Linked DNA regions of Homo sapiens: all the other regions are linked to region 1. Evidence: fine-mapped expression QTL. A gene starts in region 1. Each other region holds a variant in brackets. All regions are shown on one strand. Distances are from middle to middle. Region 1 holds the start of EXOC2 (exocyst complex component 2). Region 2 overlaps EXOC2 (exocyst complex component 2). Region 3 overlaps EXOC2 (exocyst complex component 2).

The links. PIP is the estimated chance that this variant, and not a neighbour inherited with it, causes the effect.
Region 2: its variant is fine-mapped to the expression of EXOC2 in whole blood (INTERVAL, PIP 0.92).
Region 3: its variant is fine-mapped to the expression of EXOC2 in whole blood (GTEx, PIP above 0.99).

Annotation. Positions count from the first base shown.
Region 1 is chr6:688,341-698,657 of GRCh38, forward strand. It overlaps EXOC2 (exocyst complex component 2), which reads right to left and starts at 4,799. Exons shown (of 28, transcript NM_018303.6): 1 at 4,679-4,799. RefSeq lists enhancers at 4,126-5,012, 6,442-6,950 and silencers at 4,419-4,488, 4,499-4,558.
Region 2 is chr6:614,958-625,274 of GRCh38, forward strand. EXOC2 (exocyst complex component 2) reads right to left here. Exons shown (of 28, transcript NM_018303.6): 5 at 4,473-4,586; 6 at 2,754-2,878. Among named protein-coding and RNA genes, the nearest start is that of HUS1B, 37 kb to the right of the region's middle. The variant C/T (reference allele first, on the strand shown) is at 4,336.
Region 3 is chr6:531,051-541,367 of GRCh38, forward strand. EXOC2 (exocyst complex component 2) reads right to left here. Exons shown (of 28, transcript NM_018303.6): 23 at 1,419-1,560. Among named protein-coding and RNA genes, the nearest start is that of HUS1B, 120 kb to the right of the region's middle. The variant G/A (reference allele first, on the strand shown) is at 4,789.

The DNA of each region.
Region 1 (10,317 bases):
TTCCCCAGCTGGCCCCAGCAACTCAGGTCAAGCATTACAGGAGGCAGAGAGTTGAGACTGCCCAAGGCTGAGAAGCTGCCAGGCAGATGCTACAGAACAACAACGATACAACTGAGCACACTGGCATGACAGTGACTGAAGATCACAGAAGCGCCTGATAGATGCAGTGGGGGTGAGTGAGACTGAGAAAGTTGAGGGACTATAAGCAAACAGTGGGAGGCCTGCACTTTGGATTTCAGAAGTGGACCAGTTCCAACACTGAGGCAGTTCGGTGTTACTCTTCCAGCCCCCAGCACTACTTCTCTGGCAACAGTCGGATCCTCCTCCAGACAGCCCTACTTTCTCCTTCTGTCCTTTCTGGTTACTGTTAGCTTCCCTTTGCTCCTCACCACTCCTTGTATATTCCCTAATCCCCTCTGCACCTTTCTTCATTTGAGCTATCTGGCATGACTTCTGATTCCTGCTGAGACATACATCATTATCATTCACATGGGGTTTTCATTAAAATTAAACTAAAGCCAAACATGGCCTTTTGTCTCGTTTTGTCTTTTGCTAAAATTATAATACAATGAAAGTTAAATCATATGCCCTCCAAAATCACAAACCTTTAAAATGAGAAAAGGCCTTTAAAAATTCATCCATGCTTACAAATGAAACGAAGGGGCAGCCTTGTGCAAAGTGGCACTGTTAGCAAGCAGTAAAGGGAAAAAAGCCTTCAACGCTGCACTTGTCACTGAGTGCTTAAGATGTGCCGGGCACTAGTCTTGAAGCTCTCTGGATCCACCCTGAGCAGCTCACCTTCTCCTAAGCTGAAATCCAGTCTTCCCCAGTCCTGTGTCCAGTGTTCGTTCCATTATTGGCACCAAGATTTACTGTGGAAAATATTACATAGAAAAACTGATAAACCCAAAAACAAAAATAAAGCAAACTGGATGATGTATTTTTAATCTGAAATGCTACCAAGGGAATTAAGGTAAAGGATGTTCAGGAAGCTTTTGAGCTGGCCTAATAAAACTTTCCAGGAAAAACAAACAACAAAAAAGAACTGTCTAACAAATCAGTTCCAAACTCTTCTGCCTGTCAGTCAAGGCACTCCACCCATAATCCAAAATGCACTCACTTACCAGCCCCTGGGCCTTTGCTCCTGGTATGCAGCCCAGGTGTTCACACGCCTTCCTTCATCAAGCTCTTATCATCAAAGCTTCCCAATTACTCTAGCCCCAACGGATCCTTCCTACCTCTGAGCTTCTGCTGGACTTACACTCAATACTACAGAGTTTAGTTCTTAGCTATTCTTTAATTGAGAGGGCAAAAATACCCCTTATGAATCCAGGCTAATATTATTTGATTTTTAATATATGTGTCAGGCATACAGTAAGACTGGAAGATACAAAAATAATTAAAACTAATCCCGATCCAGAATGAGCTTAGTCTTTTACTGGTGTATGTAAACACCATTAATAATATTGTCCCTAACACAACACAAGTGCTATAAGACAAGTGCTAGGTGGTTATAGGATTCACTGAGTTGGAAAATTTCAAGGCAGGAAGGATTTCAGAGATAATCTAACTGCATGTATTCTCTGAATACACAAAAAAGGAAACAGTCCAAAGCATCTAAGCAACTCAGCCAGTACTATGAAGCAGACCAGATTAGACCAAGGACCAGTGTATAGTTGCTTTGACGCCTAAGCCAAAAATACCTTTTGACTCTGTGATTTTCAAATTGAGATCAGCCAGGCACAGTGGGTCACACCTATAGTCCCAGCACTGGGAAGCTGAGGCCAGCGCATCACTTGCATTCAGGAGTTCAAGACCAGCCTGGGCAACGTAGGAAGACCTCACCTCCACAAATAATTTTTAAAATGAGCCGAACCCGGTGGCACGCACCTATAGTCCCAGCTACTTGGGAGGCTGAGGTAGAAGGATTTCTGGAATCATGGCGCTCAAGGCTGCAGTGTGTTGTGACTGTGCCACTGCACTCTAGCCTGGGTGACAGAACAAGACCCCCTTTCAATCAATAAACAAACTGAGATTGAAGGATGCCGATGCGTGTGTCACCCATCGCTTTAAGATTCATAATTTCCCGGCCCGGCGCAGGGGTTCACGCCTGTAATCCCAGCACTCTGGGAGGCCGAGGTGGGTGGATCACGAGGTCCACCGTCACGAGGATCGCGACGGTGAAACCCCGTCTCTACTAAAAATACAAAAAGTTAGTCGGGCGTGGTGACGGGCGCCTGTAGTCCCAGCTACTTGGGAGGCTGAGGCGGCAGAATGGCGTGAACCCGGGAGGCAGAGCTTGCACTGAGCAGAGATCTCGCCACTGTACTTCAGCCTAGGCAACAGGGTGAGACTCTGTCTTTAAAAATACAAAAAAGATTCATAATTTCATTACAATTACTTTTAAGTTTGTGTATTCATATCAATAATAATTTTTGACTAATATAAACATACTCTAAAGCATATGATTAGAAGTCCACACTATCACCATGTGATTTCAGCAGGCAGTCCAGAAGGTCCAAGAACATATTCCCCAGGATCTGAGTACAATCAACATCCTAGTACACCGCTTAGCAGAGTGATCAATGAATGTTATTTCCCAGTTTCAAAATCCTCTCAACAGTGACCTAAAATTCATCCATTCAATAAACATTTAAGCACCTACTATGTGGCAGACGCTGGACTAGGAACCCAGGCTGGATTAAGATGCGTAAACTGGAGAATGAGTGGAAAAGTAACTGAGAGGACACCTCTGTAACCAGCACTTCCTGTATGGCCTAATCTTGCTGCTGCTTGACACTAGAAATATTAAAAGTTCTTTGCTAGAAGACTATTTTTTCAGTACCAACTTCATTTCCCATATGATTCTTACATAATGGGCTCCCAAGAACTTAGCAAGTTAATAACCATCTTTTAGAAAAGTAATACAGTTGACCCTTAAGCAACATGGGTTTGAATGAGACAGATCCACTTATACACGGATTTTTTCAACAAAAGTTGCACTGAGTGTGCCTGCATCTCCCACTCCCCTTTCACTTCCTCCATCTCTTCCATCTCTGCCATTCCTGAGAAAATCCCTCCTCTTCTTCCTCCTCCACAATCTACTCATGCAGACTATGGGGATAATAACCTTCATGATTCTCCACTTTCATTTAAAGAAGAGTAAATACATTTGTTGTGATTTTAACATTTTCCTCTCTCAGCTTACTTTAAGAATACAGTATATAATACGTATAACATACAAAATACATGTAAGTCAACTGTTTATGTATCAGTAAGGCTTCTGGTCAACAGTAGGCTATTAGTAAAGTCCTGGGAAAGTCAAAAGTTACATGGAAATTTTTGACTGCGTGGGCACCCCTAACCCCAGTGTTGTTCAAGGGTCAACTGTAGTTCAAAATGGCATTCAATACAGGAAATTAAATACTTGACAAGAAAAAAAGATCACTTTCTAAAACTTCCAAGAGTTGGTCCAAGTCACACTGGGGGAACTCTGCTTCTCTGCTTTAATTTATTAAGTTTCTACTTAGACAAACAAGTGAACATGTAAGTACTAAGCACACATCACCCTCTTTCTATTACTACTCTGGGAATCGCCAACTTTTAGCACAAAAAAATCATCTTTGAGAAGATTCTGGCTTTCAGTTGATTTGTCATTAAAGGAGTCAGTTACACAAAGCATGGGCCAGTACATACTAACATTCATAAACAAAACATTATTATGCATTAGAAGACAGATCCACATAAGCTCAGAAGTAACTTTTCAATATTGCATAGTGCACACAAAAAGATTTAATTAAAGTGTGGCTAACTTAGAAAAAATATTTTTTAAGTGTTCCTTGTAAGTTTACTCACAGATTCATAAAGGCATCAGACTTAAAATTTCTCAGACTTATTAGTATGTTGACCTTTGGCAGATTAAAAATAACTTACTTCCATTCAAAGACGAGTTCTTTCAAGAACTATTTCTCGGAATTACTAAAGTGTTTTCTTAACAATCTTGGGATACAGGGTTACGCATCACCAGGCTTCCAGGCTGCTGGTGTGCGGACCTGGAGCCGGCGCGCAAGGTCTCAATGGCAGCTACAACAGGACCTCAGGCTCTTTGCTCAAGCACTCTGAGCCGCCGCTCCCCTATCCGTAAAATGGGTCACACGGCAGCGTACATACACCCGCGCGAGGATCAAGTACGTGCACGCAAACGCTGACAACAGCGGCAGGCGCCTTTTAAGCGCTCAGGACAGCCAGAGCGGGATGCACGCCTAGGCAGACAGGTAACACCCGCCTCGCGTTCACTTTTCCGGAGAAATTCTCAAATCTCACGGAGTGGCAACTGCGCAAGGGCGAAGCGGCGCAGTCTGGGGCCAGCTCCAGCGGGCGGGGCCTGGAGTCAGCCCTCTGCAGCCCACGCCCCTCACCGGCGCAGGTGGGGACCGCGGGGGTGCGAACTGGCGGGGGTGGGCGCGGAGCCCAGCAGGCGGCTGACGGCGGGGATGGGGGCTGCGGGGCTGGGAACCGCGGGGGGTCGCGGGGCCCCGCAGGTGACCGACGGCGCCAGTGGGCGCGGCTGTCCCTTCACCGCTGAGGCCTGGACGGACGCCGCAGGCGGCCACCTCCGTGCAGCTGACGTCCATGTCCCGCTGGCCTTCGGCCAGGCCCTCCAGCCTCCCACACATACCTCCAGCCGTCCTGCCGCAGCTCACGGCCGGCACAGACAGGGCCCGGTAGGTCTCGCCGAAGACTCCGCGGCCGCCAGCCGCCGGCACCTCACTTCCGCCCGCCGCGAGCGCCGAGCGTGTAGATCCGCCTGGCAGTCGAGCGCCGAGTCCTCGATGGGCGGAGCCTTCAGGGGAGGGTAGAGGAGGGGAGGAGACCGGCGCGGGTGCTGGAGGTCAGCAGGGGCCGTGGGCGGTGGACGCTGGAATGCCTTGGGTTCCGAGGGACCCAGCTGCCTGAATGGACACGAGTAGGAGGTTTTTGCTGGGCGTCTTTGCGGTGGCGGGAAGCGGTGAGGGAGGGAAAGAAGGATACAAGCTCAAGGGGCAGGCCGGGTGCACCATCCATCCCCGTGCCCTCGGGTCATCTCAGGGAGACTGTGGGATGATAGTGCGTTTGTGGGCCACAGTTCACAACGATGGGCCCTGCATCGGGTCAGAGGACCCCTCCGGAACAGGGGGATGCACAAGGTCAAGAGAATGCATGGAATCAGAGGGCTGCACCAGGTCAGGGGGGCTGCACCGAGACCAGAGGAAGCATCAGGTCAGGAGGATGCACTGGAGTGTGCATCCCCAGGGGGCCACACTGGGTAAGGAGGATGCACCAGGTTAGGAGGCAGCACTGGGTCAGAAGGATGCACTGGAATCAGGGGACTGTACCAGGTTGGGGGGCGTGCCTCAGGTCAGGAGGAGGCACTGGGGTCCGGGGGCAACATTGAGTCAGGGGCAGCCCTAGGTCAGGAGGATGCATGGGGTCAGGGGGCTGCAGGGGTTTGAGGGCTGCACTGGGTCAGGGCGCCATACCAGGTCAGGGGATGCGCAGGATCGGGGGAGATGCCCGGGGTCGTGGGATGCTGGGGGTTGGGGGGATGCTCGGGGTCGGGGAGTTCTCGAGGTCGGGGGATACTCGGGGTCAGGGGGTTCTCAGGGTTGGGGGGATACTTAGGGTCAGGGGATGCTCTAGGTTGGGGGAAGCTCGGGTTCAGGGGCTATGGCCAGGGAGGAAGGACAATCAGGAAAGTGGGGGTAGCGGATTCTGGAAGCTAAATAGTTTCAGGAAGGAGGAATTGATAGCCAATGTTCAGAAGTACTGTGAGGCCAAGACTCCAGAGACAATTGAGTTTGGCATATGCCAGTCATTGGCATCCTTGACAAAAGCAGTTTCAAAGGAGTGTGGGGAAGCTACATCTCGTCAGAGTGGACTGTGAAAAGAATATTAAGTGAAGTGGAAAAAAGTAAGTTTCAACAACCTAGGTTGGCAGATTTAGCAATAAAAATACAAATACCCAGTAAAGTTTAATTTCAGATAAACAACAAGTAATTTGTAGTATAGATATATTTATCACTAAACTAATGTTGCATGGGATATACTTCTACTAAAACATTGTTTTGAGAGGTGACAGCGTGCTGGCAGCCCTCACAGCCCTCGCTCGCTCTGGGCACCTCCTCGGCCTTGGCACCCACTCTGGCTGTGCTTGAGGAGCCCTTCAGCCCACCGCTGCACTGTGGGAGCCCCTTTCTAGGCTGGCCAAGGCCGGAGCCGGCTCCCTCAGCTTGTGGGGAGGTGTGGAGGGAGAGGCGCTGGTGGGAACCCGGGCTGCGTGCGGCACTTGCGGGCCAGCGCGAGTTCTGGGTGGGCGTGGGCTCAGCGGGCCGGCACTCGGAGCGGCCAGCCAACCCGCCGGCCCTGGGCAGTGAGGGGCTTAGCACCTGGGCCAGCAGCTGCTGTGCTCAATTTCTCCCCGGGCCTTAGCTGCCTTCCCGCGGGGCAGGGCTGGGGACCTGCAGCCTGCAGTGCCTGAGCCAACCCCCCCCGCCATGGGCTTCCGTGCGCCCGAGCCTCCCCGACGAGCGCTGCCCCCTGCTTCACGGCCCCCAGTCCCATCGACCACCCAAGGGCTGAGGAGTGTGGGCGCATGGCTCGGGACTGGCAGGCGGCTCCACCTGCGGCCCCGGTCGGGATCCACTGGGTGAAGCCAGCTGGGTTCCTGAGTCTGGTGGGGACTTGGAGAACCTTTATGTCTAGCCCAGGGATTATAAATACACCAATCGGCACACTGTATCTAGCTCAAGGTTTGTAAACACACCAGTCCGCACCCTGTGTCTAGCTCAGGGTTTGTGAATGCACCAATCGACACTCTGTATCTAGCTACTCTGGTGGGGACTTGGAGAACCTTTGTGTCCAAAATCTGTGTCTAGCTAATCTCGTGGGGAGGTGGAGAACTTTTGTGTCCAGCTCAGGGATTGTAAACGCACCAATCAGCACCCTGTCAAAATGGACCGATCAGCTCTCTGTAAAATGGACCAATCGGCTCTCTGTAAAATGGACCAATCATCAGCAGGATGTGGGTGGGGGCCAGATAAGAGAATAAACGCAGCCTGCCCGAGCTGGCAGTGGTAGTTTGCTCCGGTTTCTTTCCACACTGTGGAAGTTTTATTTTTTTGCTCTTTGGGGTAAATCTGGCTGCTGTTTATACTTTGGGTCCACACTGCCTCTATGAGCTGTAACTCTCGCCGCGAAGGTCTCTAGCTTCACTCCTGAACCAGCGAGATCACGACCCTACCAGAAGGAAGAAACTCCGAACACATCTGAACATCAGAAGGAGCAAACTCCAGATACGCCGCCTTTAGGAACTGTAACACATACCGCAAGGGTCCGCGGCTTCATTCTTGAAGTCAGTGAGACCAAGAACTTACCAATTCCAGACACAGTTTTAGTATTTGTTAGTAAAAGTACGGCCCCAATATTGCACGGGACATACGTATACTAAATTGTTACTATCTGAAATTCACATTTAACTGGATGTTCTGTATTTTCATCTGGCTACTTTGACAACCCCTCTGAGGAGTTGTGTGACAAAGGGAGCAGAGATGGGCGGTAGTTGCTAGAGAGGCATGGTATCAAGGAAAAAGTCTGTTTTAAGATGGGAGCTATTAACAAAACATGTAAAGAGGGAACCGCTGATGCAGGAGAGAGGGAGCAACTGCAGAGCAAGTCTTTGAGAAAGGTAAGAGAGGGTAGGACCTGTTGCACGAGGGCAGAGGTTGTTCTTAGGAGCCACCAGAGTTGAGCTGTGTAGTAGGAGAGTGAGCGGAATGTGAAGCTATAGCTGTGGGTTGGTAGACATGGTGAGGAGAAAGTGAGAAAATACTCTTCTGGTTGCTTCTGTGTTAACAAAGGAACCAACAAGATCATCTGTGAGCAGGGGGTGGGGACGAGGGAGGACTGAGAAGGGGTGAGATTGTTAACTTAGACATTGTAAGGCGAATTGTTAAGGATATGTAGCCAGATTGCCAGGCAGGGCAGAATGCCCACTTGGGATGTGTGGTCTTAAGTCTCAAATGGAACCAGTCGGCCTGCTTGTGTTGTTTTGGCTGCTCTAGTGCAGGCAGGGAGTTAGAAAATTAGTTGTAGCTGAGATTGGAGTTTGACACAGAAGATGGAGCAGGGAACAGAGGAGTTCGGGTTCTATGCAGAGAAATAACATCAGACAGGATCATGGGGTTTAAGCTGGTGTGACAGGATATTTAGATGGGTTTTTCTGGTTATCCTGGAATTGGCCACTTGAACTGGCAAAGAAGGCAGATAACTAAGGTGACCACATGTTCCACTTTGCGTGGGATGACTGATTTGTGTCTGTTATGAAGGCTTAATTATTGAGTGCCCTTTTTACTGTCAAAAGTGTTCCTTTTAGACGCTATATGGTCACCCTAAAGTCTCCCCGCACTATAGAGAAAGCCCCCTGGCCGGGCGCGGTGGCTCATGCTTGTAATCCCAGCACTTTGGGAGGCCAAGGCGGGTGGATCATGAGGCCAGGAGGTTGAGACCATCCTGGCTAACATGGTGAAACGCCGTCTCTACTAAAAATACAAAAAATTAGCCGGGCGTGGTTGCACGTGCCTGTAGTCCCAGCTACTTGGGAGGCTGAGACAGGAGAATCACTTGAACCCTGGAGGCGGAGGTTGCAGTGAGCCGAGATTGTGCCACTGCACTCCAGCCTAGGCTACGGAGTGAGACGCTGTCAAAAAAAAAGAAAAGGAAGAAAAGAAAGCCCCCAGCAATTGGGTAAGACACCTCTTGAAGCTTATGAGGAATTCACTCAGCTGTTTTAATCTGGGTTAGACGCCTCTTGGAGCTTATGAGGAATTCACTCAGCTGTTTTAATCTGGGTTAGATGCCTTTTGGAGCTTATGAGGAATTCACTCAGCTGTTTTAATCTGGGTTAGTACCTGTTGGCTCGAGGCACCCACGAGCCTGTGCTTGCTGCTGTCAGAGTGGAGCTGAGCATCAGTGTGGAGTTCTTGGCGGAGTTGGGCTGCCCTCAGGACTATATGTGACCAAGAGTATGTGCCTGCTTTTGGTGCAGAAATTCCCAAAGGTAGGAGACCTGCTGGAGAAACATAAGAGCTGGATGGAGAGGAGGGTGGCCAGGAAGCAGCTGCATAACCATGCTGTGGATATCACAGCCTCTCAGCTCAAGAACTCACACATGCTCCTCACACAAACAGTATTTGGCCCATCTATGTGTCTTACACAAATGCCTGCCCGGCAGACAGCATCCGCAGCAGAGCACAGAGCAAATGGGATGATTCAGCTAGGGCAGGTCAGGCAGTCTCTGCACAATGGGCCTGTGAATGGAATGGCCATTCACAGGGTTGGAGGCTACAGGGACCCACAGAAAAAGGCAGATCTAGACAGTGCCTCTGCCCTCTCCAGCCGTAGAGGCCAATGGGCAGCCCATGGTATGGTGGCTGCCGTCTCTCGGTGGCAAGTTGATTTCCATAGGCCCAGATGCATATTCTGGGTTTGGGTTTGGGTTTGTCTTCCTTGCTTGTAGAGCCTTCCAGGCATGACTACCCAATTGCTTACAGAATGTCTTGCCTTATCACAGGATTTCCCATAATACCACCTTGGACCAAGCACCCTTGTAAGAGCGAAAGAGGCAGACAGAGGGGACGTGACCGCAAGCTCCACTGGTTCCACCATAGATCGCACACCCCAGACTGCCACCCTGATAGGACATCAGCATGGCCCCACAAAGGCACAGCGAACGCTCCAGCAGAGTTGGAAGCTGTGCTGTGGGATGCAGTATATATTCAGAGCCTAATATCAGTGTATGGTGCAGCATCCCCAGTAGCCAGGGTCCTGGCCCCTGGGATGTGCCGAAGATGCTCTCCTGGGTGACACAGGGTTCACTAAATCTAAAAGCCTCTCCTTACTTGGGATCCTCATGGATCCCAGGCAACAAAATTTGGTCCTGGTTATGAGTAGGAAACGGGAGGGAGGATTATTTCTGGAATGCAGGGGACTCACTGGGCATCTTTTCCTTGGCTGGTGATACCAGTAAACTGGCAATGCAGCAACCCTGGCCTGACAAGGAATGATAACCAAGGGCTCAGACCTCACAGGGAAGAAGGTCTGGGTCACCTCGTTGAGGAAGCAGCCTGGGCCACAGAAGTGCTAGCTGCAGGTGAAGAGAACGGAGCCGGGTGATTAAGGAAGAAGATGATGAAAATCACTGTAGCCTTAGAACTAACTGCAGCAGTGGGCATTATAGCCCAACCTATTGACCCTCCTGAGGTGGGTTTTTTCCCCCAGTAA
Region 2 (10,317 bases), 73 kb before region 1:
TAAAAACACAAAAAAGATATCTCTGAAGAATCAATGTTAAAAAAATCACACAGAACATACAAATACTAAACAGATAACGAAAGGGCCTATAACATGAATTTTAAATGATTTAAAAATTAGAATGCAATGCTAATAAAACATGAAAATCTTAATAGAGAATTTCAGGGAAAACAAACCAAAATAAAGCAGAGACAGTAGAGGTTTGAAAAGTATATGTGGGTGTGGGTGTGTGTGTGTGTGTGTGTGTGTGTGTATGTATGTGTATACATACATATTTATCTATCTGTCTCACCTGTTCGTTCCCAGTCCCCCCTTGAAGCTACTGATCCACTGCAGTGTCTGTTCAGGAGACCCCAGACACGAATGCACTCCTGCCTGGTGTGATGAAACAGGAAGCACAGCACTATCCATGCCTAAAAGTGTTGAAAGTGAATCTTATCTAATATCCAATTAGATGAGTCCAAGCAATTTAATGGCAAGAAAAATAAGTTAAATGACACCACAAGGAAGTCATCAGTCAAATTCAGAGTGGGGGATATCTTCCAGGACAAATGACCTTGTTTCTTCAACAAATCAATAGCATGAAAAACCAGAAACAGGCTGGGCGTGGAAATTAGCTGGGCGTGGTGGTGGGCACCTGTAATCCCAGCTACTTGGGAGGCTGAGGCAGGAGAATCATGTGAACCCAGGAGGCAGAGGTTGCAGTAAGCTGAAATCGCACCACCGCACTCCAGCCTGGGCAACAGAGTGAGACTCCATCTCAAAAGAAAAAAAAAAAAAAAGAAAAACCAGAAACAGGGTAAGAAAGGTGAGGGGATGGTTTTAGTTTAAAAGAGGCTTAAGAGATTTAAAAATTAAGTGAAATGCCTGAATTTTATTTGAATCTTGATTTGGACATATCACCTATAAAAATAAAGTTTGGGGATAATTTGAGAAATCTGAACTGGGAATGAGATGATATTAAACAATTATTGCCAATTTGGTTAACTATGATAATATCATTGTGATTATGCACATAAATGTCCTTGCCCTTACTTGGGAGATTATACTTTCATCTCCACTTTTCACATTTCAAAATTTTCATAACAGAAAAGTAAAAACAACTTACCCGAGCAACTTTACATATCAGCTCTGTCAAATTTGAACCATGTAATTCCTAGTCTACATAGTCCACTGACAATAGTGGATCTCTCTGTGTTGCTCTATGTGCTGTCAGTGGTAATTTAGAGAGAAGAGCAATAAGCACAAATAAAGAATGGCACACCATCAAGAAACATAAGGCACACATATTTATCAGGAAGAGCACCTACCTTCTCTGTTCCCTCTTAGACATTCACATTTTACCCCTTCAAAAACCTAACTTCTGCCGGGCGCGGTGGCTCACGCCTGTAATCCCAGCACTTTGGGAGGCCGAGGCGGGCGGATCACGAGGTCAGGAGATCGAGACCATCCTGGCTAACACGGTGAAACCCCGTCTCTACTAAAAATACAAAAAATTAGCCGGGCGCAGTGGCGGGCGCCTGTAGTCCCAGCTCCTCGGGAGGCTGAGGCAGGAGAATGGCGTGAACCCGGGAGGCGGAGCTTGCAGTGAGCTGAGATCGCGCCACAGCACTCCCGCCTGGGCGACAGAGCGAAACTCCGTCTCAAAAAAAAAAAAAAAAAAAAACTAACTTCTACCTGCAAGGAAGAAGCTGCATCACATACACTGCATCACATACACATTTAATGTGTTGGAGGTCAATTAAGTATATATGGCACAGGAAGAGGGGGGCTTATTTATTTATTTATTTATTTAATTTATTTAGAGATGGGGTCTCGCTCTGTCACCAGGCTGGAGTGCAGTGGCGCGATCTCGGCTCACTGCAACCTCCGCCTCCCACGCTCAAGCAATTCTCCAGCCTCAGCCTCCCAAGGAGCTAGGACTACAGGTATGCACTACGCCTGGCTAATTTTTTGTATTTTTAGTAGAGAGGGAGGAGGGGGACTTTTAAAATAATAAAAGAATGTCTATACTTTAGGAATAAAAATAATTTTTAAAATTTACCTTCCTGAATTGAAGAAGATGTGGCCTCAATGCATGGTTAGAGTTATGGATACTTAAGCTATATGGGTATTTAGTTTTAAGTATCTTAGCTATTAAAAAGAATTGAGTTAACTTTTATTGATATAGATTACTTTTTACTAAATAGCAATAATTAAACTTTCATTAATTAAAAGCAGTTTTATAAAAAAAAAACTCTACCAACATCTTGCATTAAAATGTCTAAAGCTATGACATCTGTACTCCATACAACGTCCCTCCCATACACAGATGGCACAGTGACAGCTACCTGCGTGCATACGTGGGCGCCTGTGCGATAAGGGCTGAAGAGACTGGTATCCTATCATCAGCCTTTCCAAAGTGAACACACAATGGGTTGCATTTATAGAATTAGTCACATATGTAAGATATTGGTGGTTGTGCATTGGGATTTAATTTCGTATCAGCCCTGGAGTGTGGACATCACAGAGAGTTAAAGTAGTCTCCCATTTCACACATGTAAGATGGGTTAACAAAAGCCTCAGAGATAAATTTTTAAAGTACCAAGTCTTCAAAGAGATGCCAGCCTACTCTGCAACAAATATTTATAGCACATTTGAGATCTCTACTTTGATAAAAACAGACCGAGTGTCACACCCTGTAAACACCCTGCAGGCAGTGCCGGGTTTCCATGGCGGAAGCTGCCAGCAGATGGCTCTGAGGATCGCCTTACCTGAGAGGGCATCCTGTGCTTCGAAGAATGTACTGAGACCGCCTTTCACATAGGCCAGGCTGCCCTCACTCTTCTTGTTAGCCTGTCTCTTTAGGTTGGTGACTGCCATTTTGAGCTGCTCAAAACTGAAATGAAATAAAGAAACCAAAGTTTGACACTTCTAACATGCAAGAAAGAAAAAATAATTCCTTCAGTGGAGAACACTAAATATGCTAAAACCGATGCTAAGTAGCACACAGATTAATATCATACGAAGCCAGATGAAATCAAAAAGCTTTCAAATTGTTGCGTAGATCTAAACCTTTTATTTATTATGAATGCCTAAATTACAACAGCTACAAGACTTTCGGAGCCCTCGATGGTAATTCCAAATACATTAGACCCCTAAGAAGTAAATGTGTAGATGTTTTTATAACCTATATATAATATATACAATTTACCAGATAAAGAGTTTTGAACATCCTGTACTAGGTAAGAAGACACAGATCATCCAGTGATAGACAACATTTCAAAGATGGAACTGCTTTGTACATTCACTGAAGCATTGTGGAACACTAAGCATAATGTTATACTTATCAGTATCCAGTCCTCTGTCCTTAGTCATAAAATTACATGAATCCTGTGGGTCGATTCACAACTTAAATAACTAGGAAGACCACAATATCTCATCTCAATATCTAAAGCAGAGAAAACTAAAGACAGGCCTCTGTATTTCAGAAGTTTTATGTCCATTTGAGCTAAGAAAATCCGGCTATAAAACTTTAAACGTATTCTTGATAGACCTACACAAGAAACAGAGCTCAATTCTGACTTATAATAATAGAAATTCTACATCTGTAATGTAAAATCAGAATCATCTTCTACAATGAAAAAATTCATCTTGGACATTTGCTTTAAAAAGCAATCAGGTTAAATTTACCCTATGTATTAAAATGCCAACCTTTCCTCATCTTGGACATTTGCTTTAAAAAGCAATCAGGTTAAATTTATCCTGTGTATTAAAATGCCAACTTTTCCTGATGTTTTCTAGTAATGCTTTTCACCCTAATAAATGAATGAAACATTTATATTAAGGTATATTTTAACACACTAATTTATCAATAATTTAAGTTTTAAGCAATAAACCATTGATTTATCCAAACATTTTTTGCTGAATATAATTATTTTAAATCAATCTTGCAAATAAGCTACAAACTTGCTCTTGTACAGAGTAAAATGTAATTAGAAGACAGAAGGGAACCTTCAAATTGGATATATGACCTTGTCTACTTTTTTGCTAATTTTAAGCCAGGTCCTTACATGATGATAAACCAACTCATCTTCCTTTGCCCTATGGTCAGAGAAGGCAGTGTGTTCCATGTTTTACCCCAGAACTTAAAATTTTTATGTTATTTGAGTAGGGAGAGATCACATTCATACATGTCAGTTTAAGTCCCCAGCTAAGGCTCCATAAATTTTTAATAACCTGCATCAATAATGAAATATATTGAACATAAAATGACAGTAGGAAATGAGAGACCTCTAAAGAATCATCCCATTGCACAAACAGGGAAACAGACACCCTGAGATGTTCACGGGTAAA[C/T]GCAAAGTCAAAGAGCTCGCAGACCTAAAACCATGTAACTGTATGCAGAGCCAGACCTAAAACTCGAGTTACCGTGTAATTCCATCTTTAGCATCTGAGTGAAACCCTTCACAGTTGACAGTCCCATATCCACTAACCTGGTGTTTGAGTGATTCTCTATAAGATACCAGGCTGCTGAGAAATTCTCACTTGTAAAATCAGCACTCATTCCATGGAATAGCATTTCTAAGTCCTTCTGCGAAAATTTACTTCTGAGGGGAAAAAACGTTTAAAATATATTTCAATGGTTATTATGACAAAAATGGAAAAGGTATCACTAAGTATCCAGTATAACACATATGAATACTAACCATTACAACAATACATATTAATCATACATTACCCAGAACATGTTTGTATATATGTACAAAATATATTTCCCACATCATGGCTGATTTTTCTATCACTTAAACTTTGATTTTATATAGAAAAGATAGGAAACTAGTTGAAATACAGAAATTACATCAATAAAAGAATATAAGGTTTAAAGAGGATTAAGACATCTGGCTGAGTTGACAGTTTTATTAAACCTATCAAAATATGACATCAATCCCCATTCAATGTATAAAAATCAAAATTTGAATACAGTGAAATTCTAAAATATTAAATCACTTTGTTAAAATGATTTTTGTTAAAACCTAGATGAAAGTTGTTTTAAGACATACTAAGAAATCATCAAAGTACTAATAAAACCACATCTAATCACAAAGCACTCACATTTGCGTCCATGTCTAGAATGACTTTAAGAAAAGCTTGTGATAACAACAGGGTATATACATAATCTGCTGCTCCCTCATCTTGCCTACATGTTTAAGACTGACTTCTGGATCAATTCATTTATATATTCGTTCGACTATTAATCAAGTATCGACAATAGATCAGGTTCCATGCTGGGATGCCAGATGTACCCACCGAGGCTCACAACGTGGCAGCCTTTGCTGGCGCCCCCTGCCCCATTTGCAGGATGAAATCCAAGCATGTCTATGAACTGAATCTGCTTGTCCCTCAGGGCTCATTTCTGCCACTCTAGGCATGAAACCTGACGCTTCGGCAGCCTCAAAGGGACTATACTGTCTCGCATGTTGGTCTCCACCATCTTGGGGTTTACTTTGTTCGTCTGATTTGCCGCCCCCTCTAAGATGTGTCCCCTACCCCAAAACACTGGACAAGCCCAACTCATAAGGTATAAACCAGACACAGATCATTTGATAGGGTAGTATCTCTTTAACAGTTACGCAGTGGGGAAAACACTCCTACCCCAAAAGAATTTTAATGTGGGTAGGTCCGATGACTTTGGTATTCTCTGGGAGAGTCTTGCTGTCTCCTCATTACAAACACAGCCTCAATTCAGAAATTAGGCAGCTTAGTTCGTGATCCACACTCCAACTTCACCCAAAGGTAACATTTTTTTCTTCCCTCTTCCCAGCCAAGGTCAATAGTTAATAGGCTGCTTACTCGTTTGGGGGAAAAATGGCAGCTCTCTCGTAGAGGTTAAGGGTGGGATGGACAGAGAGACAAGAATGGAATGTCCTTCGGGGCCTGTGCCTGGTACTGCCATAGGTGGTCTGTGCTCTCTGCCTGCCAGGTATTCGAACCTACTTGAGTCTTGGGGGCATTTTCACGGGTTCCCTAAAGGGCTCTGGAGGACTCCTCCAGCCATGACTCATGGATGCATCTGCTTCCTATTGCCACTCCTCAGCCTCCAGTGGTCTCAGTCTTACCGCAGACACTCCCTGCTGGAGCCCCTCCACGTTCAGGTGACCAGTGCCCATAGGCACAACTTCCAATGGCCTGGAGCCCACTCTCTCTAGCAAGGTGCTTGCACACCTGGACATGGAGAACACCCCTAAAATGCAGCCACCTCTACTGTCCATGCAGGCTCTGTGTCTCACAGCTGCAGGGAACACTGTCACCTGGAGGTCCCACTCACCAGGCCTCAGTGAAGACGGTCACATGCTCTGCATCCTCCCACTTCATGGCCTACCCCAGCTCTCCCCACAGATATCTCTGCACAAACCCTCCTTGCCTCTCTACACATCCTCTCCCTCTGTGGTCCCTAGAAGAACAGGGAATGTGAGCTGCAAAACCAGATCTCGAGGAGTTCCTCTATCAACCCTGCACAGCGAGACGCCACTCACTCCAAAGTCTAATGCCTACTGCGTGAGCATCTCAGCCAGGACAGGGCGTCCCATTCACATTCGGTAACACTGTCCTTCTTCACTATGTTCCTTTTTTGACTGGGTGGGGGATGCCTTGCTTAGAATGATGATAACAGAAAAGAAGACAGATGAGATTTTGGGAGGTGGCACCACTTCCACCGAGACTGAGTCGATCGTGCATCTTTTCTCACTAGCTTCACGAGTTAAAAGATTTATAGTCTGAATCCTCCCGATACATGCATGTGGCATTCATTACTTGCTGGTCCTTTTCACCGGTCAGCAGTCTCTGGGAGGGAGGTGGAGAACTTTGAGTTTTTAGAAGTTTATTTTGGTTTGGATTCTTCATGCTGGTTCTCATACTTTACTTAGTAAGAAAATCCTTTCACCTTTGGAAGTTTTTCTCACTTTATTTATCTGCACCCCATGCCTCCAAGTTAGAGCTTTGGGGGAATATAGAGACTGAGTGGAGGCTTAGGCTAAGCTGTGACATGCTGAACCCCGGCTAAGTGACCCAGAAGTGCCTCCTTCTGCAGTCCTGCTCTAACCGGCAGGCAGCATCTGCCTGGAGCACTGTGTGAGGGATCACGGGCTTTGTCTCAACTCAGCTAGAAAGAATGACATGACCAATTAGTAAGGCGTGTCATCGCGGGCAGAAGTCATGGTGGCTGCAGACCATGTTTCTGTCGACCTTCCTTCTAGACACGGCCATTCAATGTGGTGTCTCACACTTCACTTGGTCAGAGAGTTAAATGGTCTGAACAGAATCAAAATGCGCTACTGGTATCAACTAAGTTCCTACTAACAACAGTCTTCACACCTGATTTAAGTACAAGACATCCTCATCCAGCAGGGATCAAGTCCAAGTAACCTAAGGACACAGCTGAGAAAAAAGAAACGAAAGAAGGCTGAGAAGTCAAACAGCTTCTGTGCCCCTCCCCCACGCCCATGGTGCTGCGCTGTGCCTCGGTGTTTCTCTGCCCATAATCGAACAGGGAATGAACGGCAGTTGCTAGCGTTAAGAGCTGATGATGTGAAGAAAGGATCTGTGACACAATGGTAGCAAGTAACGCAAGAAAGTATAAAATGCAGACACAAAACTCAAAAATACAGCAGCTGCATGCCCTGGAGAAACGGCTAAGAACACACAGTCCCCATGGGTCTGGCAGCTACGTCATACTCCACGTGTTTAGCCAAAATAAAAAATGTTTTAAAAAACAGAATGTACACAGCACATACAGAAAAGGCTCTGTCCTAAACAGTTACAATGCTTAAATTGGTGGTACTGATGGTACTGAACAATGTAAACCAGCAGCTCAGAGCTTTCCATTCTGTACTCCATTTTTAAAATTCCCCTGATACTTAAACTCTGGTAACATCTCACTTACAATGCATTACTAAATTGTTATTTTTACAAATCTAAACTGCTCTCAGTTATATCATAACATAAAGGCCTGATGTCTAGTGGAGGGCTCCAGGAGAGGGACTGTTAAGATTTTAAGAAACTCTCCTACCCCCAGGAGTCCCTCCCTCCCTCATCCTCAGAAGGAGCAGGGATGGGTCTAGCCAGTCCCTAGCAGTGGGGCCCCTGGCCAGAAAGCAGTGGGTCTGGTGAGGTCCCCACTGGCCCTGCACTCCCAGCTCTTCAGCCATGAACATCCCGTGCACCACAGGCCGCTGGGAGGACACGGGTGGCAGAGCCTGAGACTTGGCTTCTGCATTGGAGTGAGCAGGGAGGCCCAAGCCCCTGGAGCTGGATTCTGAGATTCGAGCCCCACCCACCCGCCAGCACCCCTACCCGGATGCGTCGTTCCTTCAGGCCCCTGAACTGGGCCAGGTACAATTTGAAAAGCACTACATCTCTTGGTCAAAATACCACCTCCCCTAAGACGGAGCTGATTATTCTGAGAGTTCTTACTGAAGACATTAAAACTCTTTCACTGATCTTAATTGGAAGACATGTATTGAGACTTATAGCAGAAATCAGCCTTACAAGAACAAGACAGACATTATTTTCAAGATGGTGAAATTCTAACACAGATGTCAAATAATCTTCCCCAAATCACACCATTAAGGCCAGGACTAACCTTGCCCGGACACACAGAGCCTGTTTCTAGTGGACACTGTTGGCTATGACCCACCAATCACCCTGGACCCTCTCTGCTGAAACACAGCCCCCCAATTGCCCCTTAACTGGGGAGAGATCAACCACCATAAGCCAACCGCGCTTGTCATATTCCCCCTGCTCTTGATTGGATAAACTTGTTTTTGAACAGTGATGTCGGAGGAAGGTCTGTTGGAGCACATCTGGGAAAGGTCTCCATACTTTCAAGAAGGGAAACCAAGAAGAGACACCATCTTTCTGCCTGAGAACATCATTATGTCCAGTTTCAACCACAATTGCTAAGGAAATGTGTTTTATGCTAAGGGCAACAGAACAGCCAGCAAACCCAGGCTCCTCACATCTTGGTGACATGACTGACTCAACCAACCTTTGGAGTCTGCCATCAATGAATATTGTATATTATGAAAAAGTAGATTTTATTTTTGTTTAAATCAATCTTAATTGCAGGTGAAGGCATCCTGATTCCATATTCTATTGCAAAATATATGCCTAAATATACTGATCTTTTATGCAAACACCTCAAAAATGTGAAATAAATGAGTTAGAAAAAACAAAAAATGAATACCAATGCCAGAGTCCATGAAGCTCCATGGGTAACACAGCTGCAAAAGTACAGGTGGCTCATCTCAGTATTCCCAACGGGAAGCAGCAGTAATAAGCAGTGGCTAAGAGCACAGGCTCTGGGTTCAATCTCGATGTTTGCTCAATCCACCTGTATAATCTCGAGAAGTTATTCCATTATGAATGGATCACCATACCTTCCTCTTAGGAATGTTTTGAAGATCAGAGTAGATAATGCTTGTGGAAGCCTAGCAGTTTCTGACACATGATAAATGCTCAAAAATGTTATTTGCTATTATTTTTATTATTTATACTTATTTATATCTTACAGACTAATTTCCTAAGTATTATTTGATTCCCATGACAATAACTGAGTTAAATATTTCCATGTTCCAGATGAGGAAATGGCCTCTGAGAGGTTATATGTAAACAGTCGAGATTTGAACCTGGTACTTCTACTGTCAAACAGAGAACCAGAGGGTTTTAGGTGGGAAATACGATCACAACTACAAATCCGTAAAGATGACAATGCAGGAGAGTGCGAAAGGGGAGCTGCTTTCAAATGAAGAGAATTGCTAATGCCCTTAATAACAGTAACAGGAAAGGAAGAGGTAGTATATCAACACAGCTAATGAAGCACGGAGTAAAAACTCTTACGTTTGTTCAGAATAACTGGATTTCGGATTCTACATTTCCAAGTGAAGTCCCGGCTCAGACACATCAGAAAAAGCAACATACGCTCTGAGTACTTCAAACCAAGCCTGCATTTTAAATCCACTAGCACAGAGTTAGGACTGAAAGTGACAGAGACCCTACTGTGTAAACTCACGAAATGTTTTCATCGAGGAATCGAAACACACAGTTTCAGTCACGGACAATTCCTGCCACCCTGAACAGATATGTTTTCCATTAGATGGCAGTGTAAGGTCAGATTTAAACCTTCTAAAAAACAGCTAGCCCCAAGCCAGGAGAAGACACAGGCCTGTGGACTGAGCGAAGAGACACAAACAGGCACGTTCTTCACACTTCAGCACTTGCTTTCCAGTATGAGGACTCTCTGCAGCAATGACCCATGCAGCATGCAAATCAATGGGCCTCCTT
Region 3 (10,317 bases), 160 kb before region 1:
TGTGGGGATGCTACCTTGTCTGAGAAGTCTGGGGTTAGCCTCAGGGAGAATGAGCCTCCTCGAAGGTTTTTCAGCAGGGGATTGACAGGATCCAATTTATATTTTAGAAGGATGAGCTTTTCAAAAAGGCAGAGGTTGAGTCCAGCTGGAGAGGGGCTGTGAGGTGGAGCATTGGGGCAGTGGGCAGAGTGCCAGGGCAGAGGTGGGCACAGCACAGCTTCCCCGGTTTTACTATCATGAGAAGATGTTGTAAGAATTTTAAGTAAGATACTGATAGAACCTGCCTTAAACTTTAAAAGGATGTACTTTGAGGGTATGAACTGAATGTGGTTTGGGCACAGAAAGTGTGTGCACAGAAAAGTGTGTGCACAGAAAAGCACATGAGGAATAAGGGCTGGCATGACTGCCATGACTGTGAGCTCAGGAAATTCAATAACTGTGGTCACATTAAGTAACTGTGGCTAATTTAATGATCCCAGTTTTTAGTTTACACTTTTGGCATCACTATACGTGAACACTATACAATAAAAACCAAAGGTGTTTAAACAGTAAACAATTTTATCATCGTTTAGTATAAGTGCCATACAATAAAAACAAAAGGAGGTTAAAGTGATTGGTTAAAACAATGAAGTTACCAAACCTGTTAACAACTCACTGGTGCTTTGTTATATCTGCATATGTACACCCATGAAGAACCCGTGTCCGATACCAGCATGACCACTTCTACATAAACTACTTCTCTACAAAAGTGCCAACAGGCAGCTTGGTTTTAGGTATTCCACGTTATTTCATACAAAGAAACAACTATTTGATCAATCAAAAGTTTACTTGATTCAGAAAGCAATAGTTATTTTAAAAATATATATTTTGAAGTGATTCAAGTGACTTTCATTTGAAATCACAAAGATAATACTTGAACTGTGTCATTCATCCTTCTGTGGCTCAATTCTCTTTGCTAAATTACTATAATAATCTTACTCCTACACACTTTTCTCCTATCCTTCGCCTTTACAGCATCACTAATCAGGTCTTACATAGAAGTGACCAGATTTCTTTAATACATTTTTTGATGATGTACACAAGGTCATTGCATGCCACTGTCACTCACAATCACTCTATTGTATCTATGTGAGAAGATCACAGGAAGCAGGAATGCATTACTAAAACGATCAATTATTACAAGTTATCATTAATTATTCTCTAGAATTTAAGAACAGCTTTAAGCCACTAATAATACAAAGTGTCCAATTTCCAAACTATCCAAGAAATGGGTTTAAGCAAACAAAAAGTTAAAATCAAATTAATCTCTCACTCTCAGTAGATATGAGAAAAATGAGAATAAAATGAAAAGAATTCAAGCAAGTATCAATTGATAAAAGTATATCCACATCTATTACTCAAGAAACTTTATTACTTACCTGTTGGAGGCAGGCAGTCCTTCCAATCAAAATATCCTGCATAAATTCCAGGTTCTAAGGAGCCAACGATGGGATCTGCTTTCAACTCGATGTAATTTTCAAAGAGTCTTTGATCTAGTTCTTTCAATGAGGCCATGCTAACCTATAAACACATAATGAAGAGTATGAGTTGCCTATTTGAGGGTGATGGAAAAAGTAAAATAATGTTAACAATAAATACTTCAGACTATAATAAAAGCACTTCTCAATTTTCCTACAAAAACTCGTGACTTTTATATATTTTCAGTAACAAAGATCTCTTTTAGCATAGCTATTTTGCAGGAGAAAAAATAATCTCCATATATGGACTACAGGTCATTGTATTAGTCCGTTCTCATACTGCTATAAAGAACTGCCCAAGATTAGGTAATTTATAAAAGAAAGAAGTTTAATTGACTCAATTATGTTATGCATGGCTGGGGAGCCCTCAGGAAACTTACAGTCTTGGTGGAAGGCAAAGGGGAAGCAAGGCATCTTCTTCACAAGAAGAAGGAGAAGGTGGCCAGAAGGAGAAGTACCCAGTGGAAGGGGAAGAGAGCCCCTTATAAAACCATTAGATCCCATTAGAACTTACTATCATGAGAAGAGCATGGGGGAAACGGCCACTACGATTCAATGACCTCCACCTGGTCTCTCCCTTGACACGTGGGGATTATGGGGATTACAAATCAAGAGGAGATTTGGGTAGGGACAGAAAGCCTAACCATATCATTCATTTTTGAAAATACTAACCACTCATTTCTGTACACAGAGCAAGAGGCATTATAAATACTAAATTGTAATAGCCAGTAAACTACAATTAAAAAGGAACCATTTAAAATCATGTTCTGTTTCTTCATATTAACTAATTCATTTGAAAAGTGTGACCAATAGAAAATAAGCCTGCTCTGACACTCCAGTAACCCCAGTGTGGCTCCCCTGGATTCTCCCTCCAGTTACAGCTCTGCTTGAGGGGCGTGCAGGTCAGGCCTTCGAGTCTAAGGCAACTCCACAGGGAGGCCAGACACACGCTCGCTGTCATGGGCAAAAAGGAACAGGAAAGACCCCTATCAGTAAGTCCTGTCCTTGGCACAGTTCAGCTGCATGGACTGTGGGGGCTCCCGATGGGAGTGGGAGCAGAAGAGGGTAAGGAGGCTGGCATCAGCCCTACGTGAGTGTGCCTTGTCTCACCAGCAGGCAGGAGGCCAGAAGAAGAAGAGGGGGGAGGCAGAGACCCAAGCATGGAGGATATGGGAAGTCTGGGGTGTGGAGAGTCTGTGGGCCCAGGTCACCCTGCAGGGGGCTGGTGGCCGTTCTGCTTCTGCAGCACTGGCCTGAGAGGGATAGGCTTCTCTCCAATGCCAGGCCTGAGCTGCAACGAACTACAGTGAAAAATAAACACACGTCTAAGGGAGTCCGCTGCTATGCACAGGCACATCCACCAAGCAGTGAAACTCAGCTGCAGAAGAGACAAGCAACAACTTGAACAGAAAAAAGAAAGAAAACCCTCATGACGATTAAAGTATAATACAAAACAAGATTTCCAGAGGTGAAACATACAACTTCCAAAGCTAACAAATGAGTAGATTAACACAAGGAACTCCTGGTCACTGTTGAGACTGATCTGAAGTGCAAGAACTACTTCAAAACATAGAGTAAAAGTGTAAAGACATGAAAACTATGAACAACAAGACTAGAAGATAAACCCAGGAGCTCTAACATGCAAAAAATAGAAATTCAAGTAAAGAAATACAAGCAGATAGAGAAAAGGTATTCATTAAACAAGCAGTAGGAGAAAATTTAACTGGATCTAAAGAAAGACCCAAGTTTGCAACTTGAGTAGGCTTGCAGAGTGCCAGGCTAGACTGGTAAGACAGCCCACATATCTAGGCAACTACTGTTAAAGTTTCTAGTTTCTAATACATTTACTCTAAATGAGAGAGAGACAGAGAGAGAGAGAGAGAGAGAGACAGAGACAGACTGACTTTCAAGCTTCTAGATCAAAACAATAATTTACTTACAAAGAAGAAAGAACTGGTCTGACGTCAGATTTCTCACATGCAGTACTGGGAGCTGAAATCACTGGATTAAAATCTACAGGAATGAAAGAACAGAACCCAAGAATCCTGTATTTAGCCAGCGTGTCATTCTCTTAACAGAGTCCGAGAAAGATATTTTTGGATATGCAAGGGTTCAAGGAGTATTTCACCCATGTAATGAGAAAGGGCTCTAACCTAAAATCAAACACATCAGAACGAAGAAGATGAACTACTGAGGAAAACAGTGACAGGCAATAACTCTGAGTTCCCTCTCGCCCTTCTTTATCTCTCTCTTTCTCTAGTATCTATAAACACAAACCGAAATAGATGATTAGAGACTCCCTGGACATGTGAAATACAAGTGTGAAGTAAGATTTCTTCAAAGGAAGGAGGCATCCAAAAGGGAAATACTAATAACACACAATGAAGAGATAACATATCAAAATCTGCAAGAGAGAACCAGTGGCTAGAAATTTATAGCTGAAAATGTTTTAAAAGAAAAGTTTAAAAGGAGAAAAACTTAAATCACTGCTCTAATTTTCTGCCCCAAGTATCTAGAAAAAGAGAAAATTAAACCCAAAGAAAATAGAAGGAAAAGATAAAGAACAGAAATCAATATCTTAAAAAGGTAAATATTAAAGAAAACCACCAATGCCAAAAGTAGGATCTTTGGAAATAATAATAAAAATGATTAGCCAGGCATGGTGGTGCGCATCTGTGGTCCCAGCTACTTGGGGGCTATGGTGAGAGAATGACTTTAGCCCAGGAGATCGAGGCTGCAGCGTGGTATGATTCAACTACCGTACTCCAATCTAGGTAACAGAGCAAGACCCTGTCTCTTAAAAAATTTGAAATTTTTTAAAAATTAAAAAGGAATAACAACAGAAACGATAAGCTCCTGGGCAAGACTGATGAAGAAATAAAGAAAAAAACCCACATATTGCCAAGAACAGAAATGAAAAAAGAAACATTCCTATAGATCCTGAAGACATTAAAAGGATAGTAAAAGGACATTACAGTTTTATGCCATCAAGTCTTGACAACATAGAGGAAATTGCTAATCTGCTGAAAAACACAACCTTCAAAAACTGGCACAAGTAGTCCTATATTTATTAAACTAATTGAATCCATTATAGACAAGGACTTGACAATGAGAACTTCAGGTCCAGGTGGTTTCATTTGTGACTCTACCAAGCATGTAAGGAAGAAATTATAGCACACACAAACATTTTCATAGAATAGAGGCTGAAAGCATTTCCTATTTTGTTTAATGAAGCCAGTATAACCCTAATATCCAAACTGAGCAAGATATT[G/A]TAAGAAAAAAATCACACGCCAATAGCCTTCATGAACAAAGACATAAAAACCCAAACAAACTATTGGCAAATAGAAACTATAAATAAATTTTAAAAACATATCATGCAGAAGTGGTATTTTTTCAACAGATGAAAAAGCACTTGAGAAAATTCAATATACTTTCATGACAAAAATTCTCAGTAAACTAAGACTAGAAAGAAAATCAGCTGTGTAAAGGGCATCTACAAAATGGTACAAATATAGAGTGCTTTCTCCAGAAGATCAGGAATAAGGCAAAGTTGTCCCCTTTCACCACTATTTCAAGATTATACCAGAGGTCCTAGTCCATGAGATCTGGCAAGAAATAATACCAAAAAAGAAGAAGTAAAACTGTTTTTATTAACAGAAGACATCATTACGTATTTAGAAATTCTAAGCAGGTTGACATACTAATGGAATAAGTAAATTTATGGAGGCAGCAGAGTCAATAACAAAAATCAATTATATTTCTATATAATAGACATCGAAGGATTATAATACAATACCATAAAAAATAAAATACCTAGGAATAAACTTAACAAAAGACATGGAAAATCTCTAATGGAAACTACAAAACACTGCTGAAAGAAATTAAAGATGGCCTAAACAAATAAATAGGATCATCAATATTGGTAATTTTCTCCAAATTCAATGAACCCCTAAAAGGCCTTTTCTTGGTAAAAATTCACAGGCTAAAATTTATATATAAATGGAAAGGACCTAAAATAGCCCAAACAATTTAAAAAGAACAAAGTTGGAAGACTCATACTACTTGATATCAAGACTGACTATAAACCTATAATAAATAAAACAATGCAATATTGGCATAAGGATAGACATCATAGACCTAAACATAAAAGTTAACATTACAAAACTTCTGGGAAAAAATATTCAGGACATTGAAGCAGGTAAAGATTCTGACAACATATGAAAGGCATTAAACATTTTAAAAGCTTGATACAATGGATCTCATCAAAATTAAACAATTCTGTTCAAAAGATATTATAAAAACAAAACAGCAAGCCATGAACTGAAAAAATATGTATGCATGACAAAGGACTTATTTAGAGCCTTCTAAAAATCGTCAATAGAAAGATGACTGATCCAATTTAAAAATGAGCTGGGGTTAAACAGCACTTCAAGAAAGAAGCTACCTGAATGTATCTGAATATACAAGAAAAGGTGCTTAACATCATTGTTAGGGAAAACCAAATAAAGCAACAATGAGACTGGCTGAAATAAACAAGATTGGTAATATTAAGTGTTGGCTAGGATGCAGTTTATAACCGAGTTTATGACCGACGGAGCGTACACTTGAGTTGACGACCGACGGAGCGTACACTCGAGATGACGACCGACGGAGCGCACACACGAGATGACGGCCGACGGAGGGCACACACGAGATGACGGCCGACGGAGCGTACACTCGAGTTGACAGCCGACGGAGCGCACACACGAGATGACGGCCGACGGAGCGTACACTCGAGTTGACGGCCGACGGAGCGCACACTCGAGTTGATGGCCGACGGAGCGTACACTCGAGTTCATGACCGACGGAGCGTACACATGAGGTGACGGCCGACGGAGCGTACACTCGAGTTGATGGCCGACGGAGCGTACACTCAAGATGATGACCGACGGAGCGTACACTCGAGTTGATGACCGATGGAGTGTACACTCTGGAAAACTACTCAGAGTTCCTAATCAGCTTGTGCCACGACCAGCTATTGTACTTCAAGGTTTATATCCAAGATCAGTGAGTACAAACATCCACAAAGAGACTTACAGGAATATTCACCACAACTTTATCCATAAAGGCCTAAAACTGGAGACAACCCCATGTCCATCACCATGAGAATGATTAAACAAAATCTGGTTATCCAAACTCAGCAATAAAAGAAAATGACTCACTGGTACACACAACTGGATGAATCTCAAAAAATTAATTTGGAGCAAAAGAAGCCAGATACAAAAGACAACAAACTGCATGGAACTCCACGTAAAGTTCTGGGACAGGCAAAATGATTCTCTGCAGATAGCAGCTGGAACGTTGCTGAGAAGGGAGCCTACTCAAACAGGGCACAAGGGAAGGTTTTGTATTTTCATCTGGTGGTGGATGCTGGAACGTGTGCATATGTAAAAAGCCATCAATCCATAAGCTTAAGATTTGTGTCTTTTACTGTAGGTAAATTACACCTCATTTTTTAAAAAAAGAAGGGAAAAGAGGAGTTGAAAATAAATAGATGTGCAAACAGTTAATAGGCAAATGCTACAAAAAGAGAGTAGAATGGCAGTATTAATGTGTGATGAGGCAGGATCAATGTCAGGAGTACACAGCTCATACTTTTTGTTGTAAGGATTTAAACAGATAATTCAGGAAACTTGCATAGCACACTGAAAGCAAATACATAATAAATGCTAGCAGCTATTTCTATTAACTCAACAGCCTCATTTTCACTAACACCCTGTTCACACTGGCTGCTGAACATAGAAAACTGGGTCTGCTTGATTCCTGCTCAAAAAGCAAGGGTCAGATCCATCTACCATTAATCGCTATCTGAGAGTGAGGAAGAAAGATTAACTTTAAAAACATCCTGACACTAAGGAAATCAGTCTTATAAAGTGATGTGTTTAAGGAATGCAGTGGTTAAACAGAGACGGAGCGCTAAAGGGTCACTGATGGGGGTGAGAAAGGCAGCAGAGTAGACATGCCTGAGGGTCCAGTGGCCTTTTAGGGCAGGTGTCTCTAACAAAAACACAGTGCCTCCTTTAAAAAAGATAACAATTTAATTGTGTACAGACAGTCCCAACTTATGAGAGTTCAACTCATGATTTTCCCACTTTACCAGGGTGTAAAAGCAATGCGCATTCAGTATGTTCCCTGGCTTATGATGTGCTACGTCAGGTTAAACCCACTGTAAGTAGAAAATATCTGGCCGGGCACAGTGGCTCACGCCTATAATCCTAGCACGCTGGGAGGCTGAGGCGGGTGGATCACGGGGTCAGGAGTTCAAGACCAGCCTGGCCAAGATGGTGAAACCCTGTCTCTACTAAAAATACGAAAATTAGCCGGCTGTGGTGACAGGTGCCTGTAATCCCAGCTACTAGGGAGGTTGAGGCAGGAATTGCTTGAACCCGGGAGGCGGAGGTTGCAGTGAGCCAAGATCACACCACTGCACTACAGCCTGGGTGACAGAGCAAGACTCTGTCTGAAGAAAAAAAAAAAAAAGAAAATATCATAAGTAGAAAATGCGCTTACGATATTTTCAATTTTGGAAGGGTTTATCTGGAGGTAGCCCCATCATAAGTTCAGGAATATCTGTATTCAGAAATAGACTTACTCACTGAATTCGTACATATTAGCACTGAGGAGGGTCTTTCGAAGCATTAAAAAACTGTGGGTAATAACTTACAGAAGTAAAAGGCGTATGCTGGAGGCAGAATTCTGGTGTAATGGACAATACTCCCAATAAGCCAGCGCCCTGCCACCTTAGCAGCAATCATGTATATACTCAACAACATTTCCATCTCACGCACCGGCACTGATGCCAGCCAGTGCTCCCAATAAGCCACCGCCCTGCCTTTCTTAGCAGCAATCACGTACACTCAACAACATTTCCATCTCACGCACCAGGCACTGATGCCAGCCAGTGCTCCCAATGGACAGTCCTGGAGAAGAGATGCCTAAGTCGATTGTCAAATTTCTCTAACTTCTTTACTGTTGTCTTCAACACAGTCACAATGGTTTAAAAGATAACATCATTATTTTGATGTATTTTAATGTTTCCAATTTAAAATTTCCAATTTGTGATTTTAAAAACTTTTTGATAATAATGTTTTTTAAAAATTATGCTTCCAAGAAAGAAAATAAACAACAAACAATTATTTTCATTCCAATTTGGCCATCTGTATAGAAATAAGGTCATCAAACTATCATTAGAACATCTATCCAAGTGACTCTGGATAACTAGGTTCAGACAAATTAATTTTTTTTAGCTCTTTTCAAATGGATGGCAGGACAGGTGGCAAACTGACATTCCTTTATATTACTGAACCACAACTTGTCAAATGGGGGCAAAATAAATGCCAAGTAAATAACTAATTTTAAAAAACCTCTTAATTCCTAGGAGAAGTATTAACACAAAAAAGAAAACTACAGATGAAACAGGATATACTGTCACCTGAAACAGAAGGACAGCCTGTGTCTCCAGGACTTGTTAGCGAGGGCTTCCAAGCCACACATGCGCACACCATGCCCAGCTAATTTTTTTATTTTTAGTAGAGATGGGGTTTCACCATGTTGGCCAGGCTCGTCTTGAACTCCTCACCTTAGGTGATCCACCCACCTCAGCCTCCCAGAGTGCAGGGATTACAGGCAGGAGCCACCACACCCAGCCAGGAATTTTTAATAATCAAGTTAGTCACCTCACATCCTATATATTAGGCTTCAATTGTTTGCTCCACTGTTCTCAATAGGATAATCTTATCCTTGACGATTTGATTTTCTATCTATACAGAATAATCGGAAAGACACTGGAAAGAACTTTACTGCTACCACTATCTCCTTCCCTGATTTCTGAATTATACCATTCCAGAGTAAGTTAATAATTTCCCCTTACTTAGTAACAAAAAACAAAGTTTCTGGAGAAGAAACACAACTGAAATAACATTTCAATACACAGTAAATTTCAGCAAGATTAGACACAACTGAAGAAACAAGGAACAAAAAGAGAGAGCTGAGGAGATTACCCCAATCAGTACAGACAATTAAAGATGAGGAGAATAAAAAAGAAAAAAATTAAGAGATGTGAAGAATAGAGTGAGAAGGTCTAACATACACCCAATAGGAGATCTTAAAGGACAGAAAAGTTTGAATGGAGAAGAAAAAATATTTGAAGAGATAATGGCTTAGAACTTTCCAGAATTGATTAAAGACATCAACCAGAGCCAAGGGAACAAACAGGCCAAAAAACATAATAATACCAAGACACATAATAAAAATACAGAACAGAAGAGGCAAATAAAGTATCTAAAAAGGAGCCAAGGAAAAACCTTACTACATTTTTCTCAGTAATCAAGAGATCAAAGTCCAAACCAAACAAACAAAAGGACTGAACAACATAATCCACAAACCCGATGTAATAGACATCTGTGGAATGTGGTATCCAAAACGTAAGGACACGATCTTTTCAACCGAGGTAGGGTTTCAGAAAACTGTCCACATATGAGCTTACAAAGCAAGCCTCAGCAAACCTAAAAACATGATATTCTCTGACCTCAGAACAATGATGTTAGAAATCTCTAACAAAGAGAAAACTAATTCCAACTGCTCCTCTGCTCCCTTAGCTTGGAAATTTAAAATCATACTTCTAGCCAAGACTAAAATAGAATATTAAAATTCAAAACTAAAAAAAATGAAGAATAACTAAAATACCACTTGCGAAAACATGGGAAACACAGCTAAAAAGACACTTAGAGGGAAATTCACAGCCTTAAATGTTCATATTAAA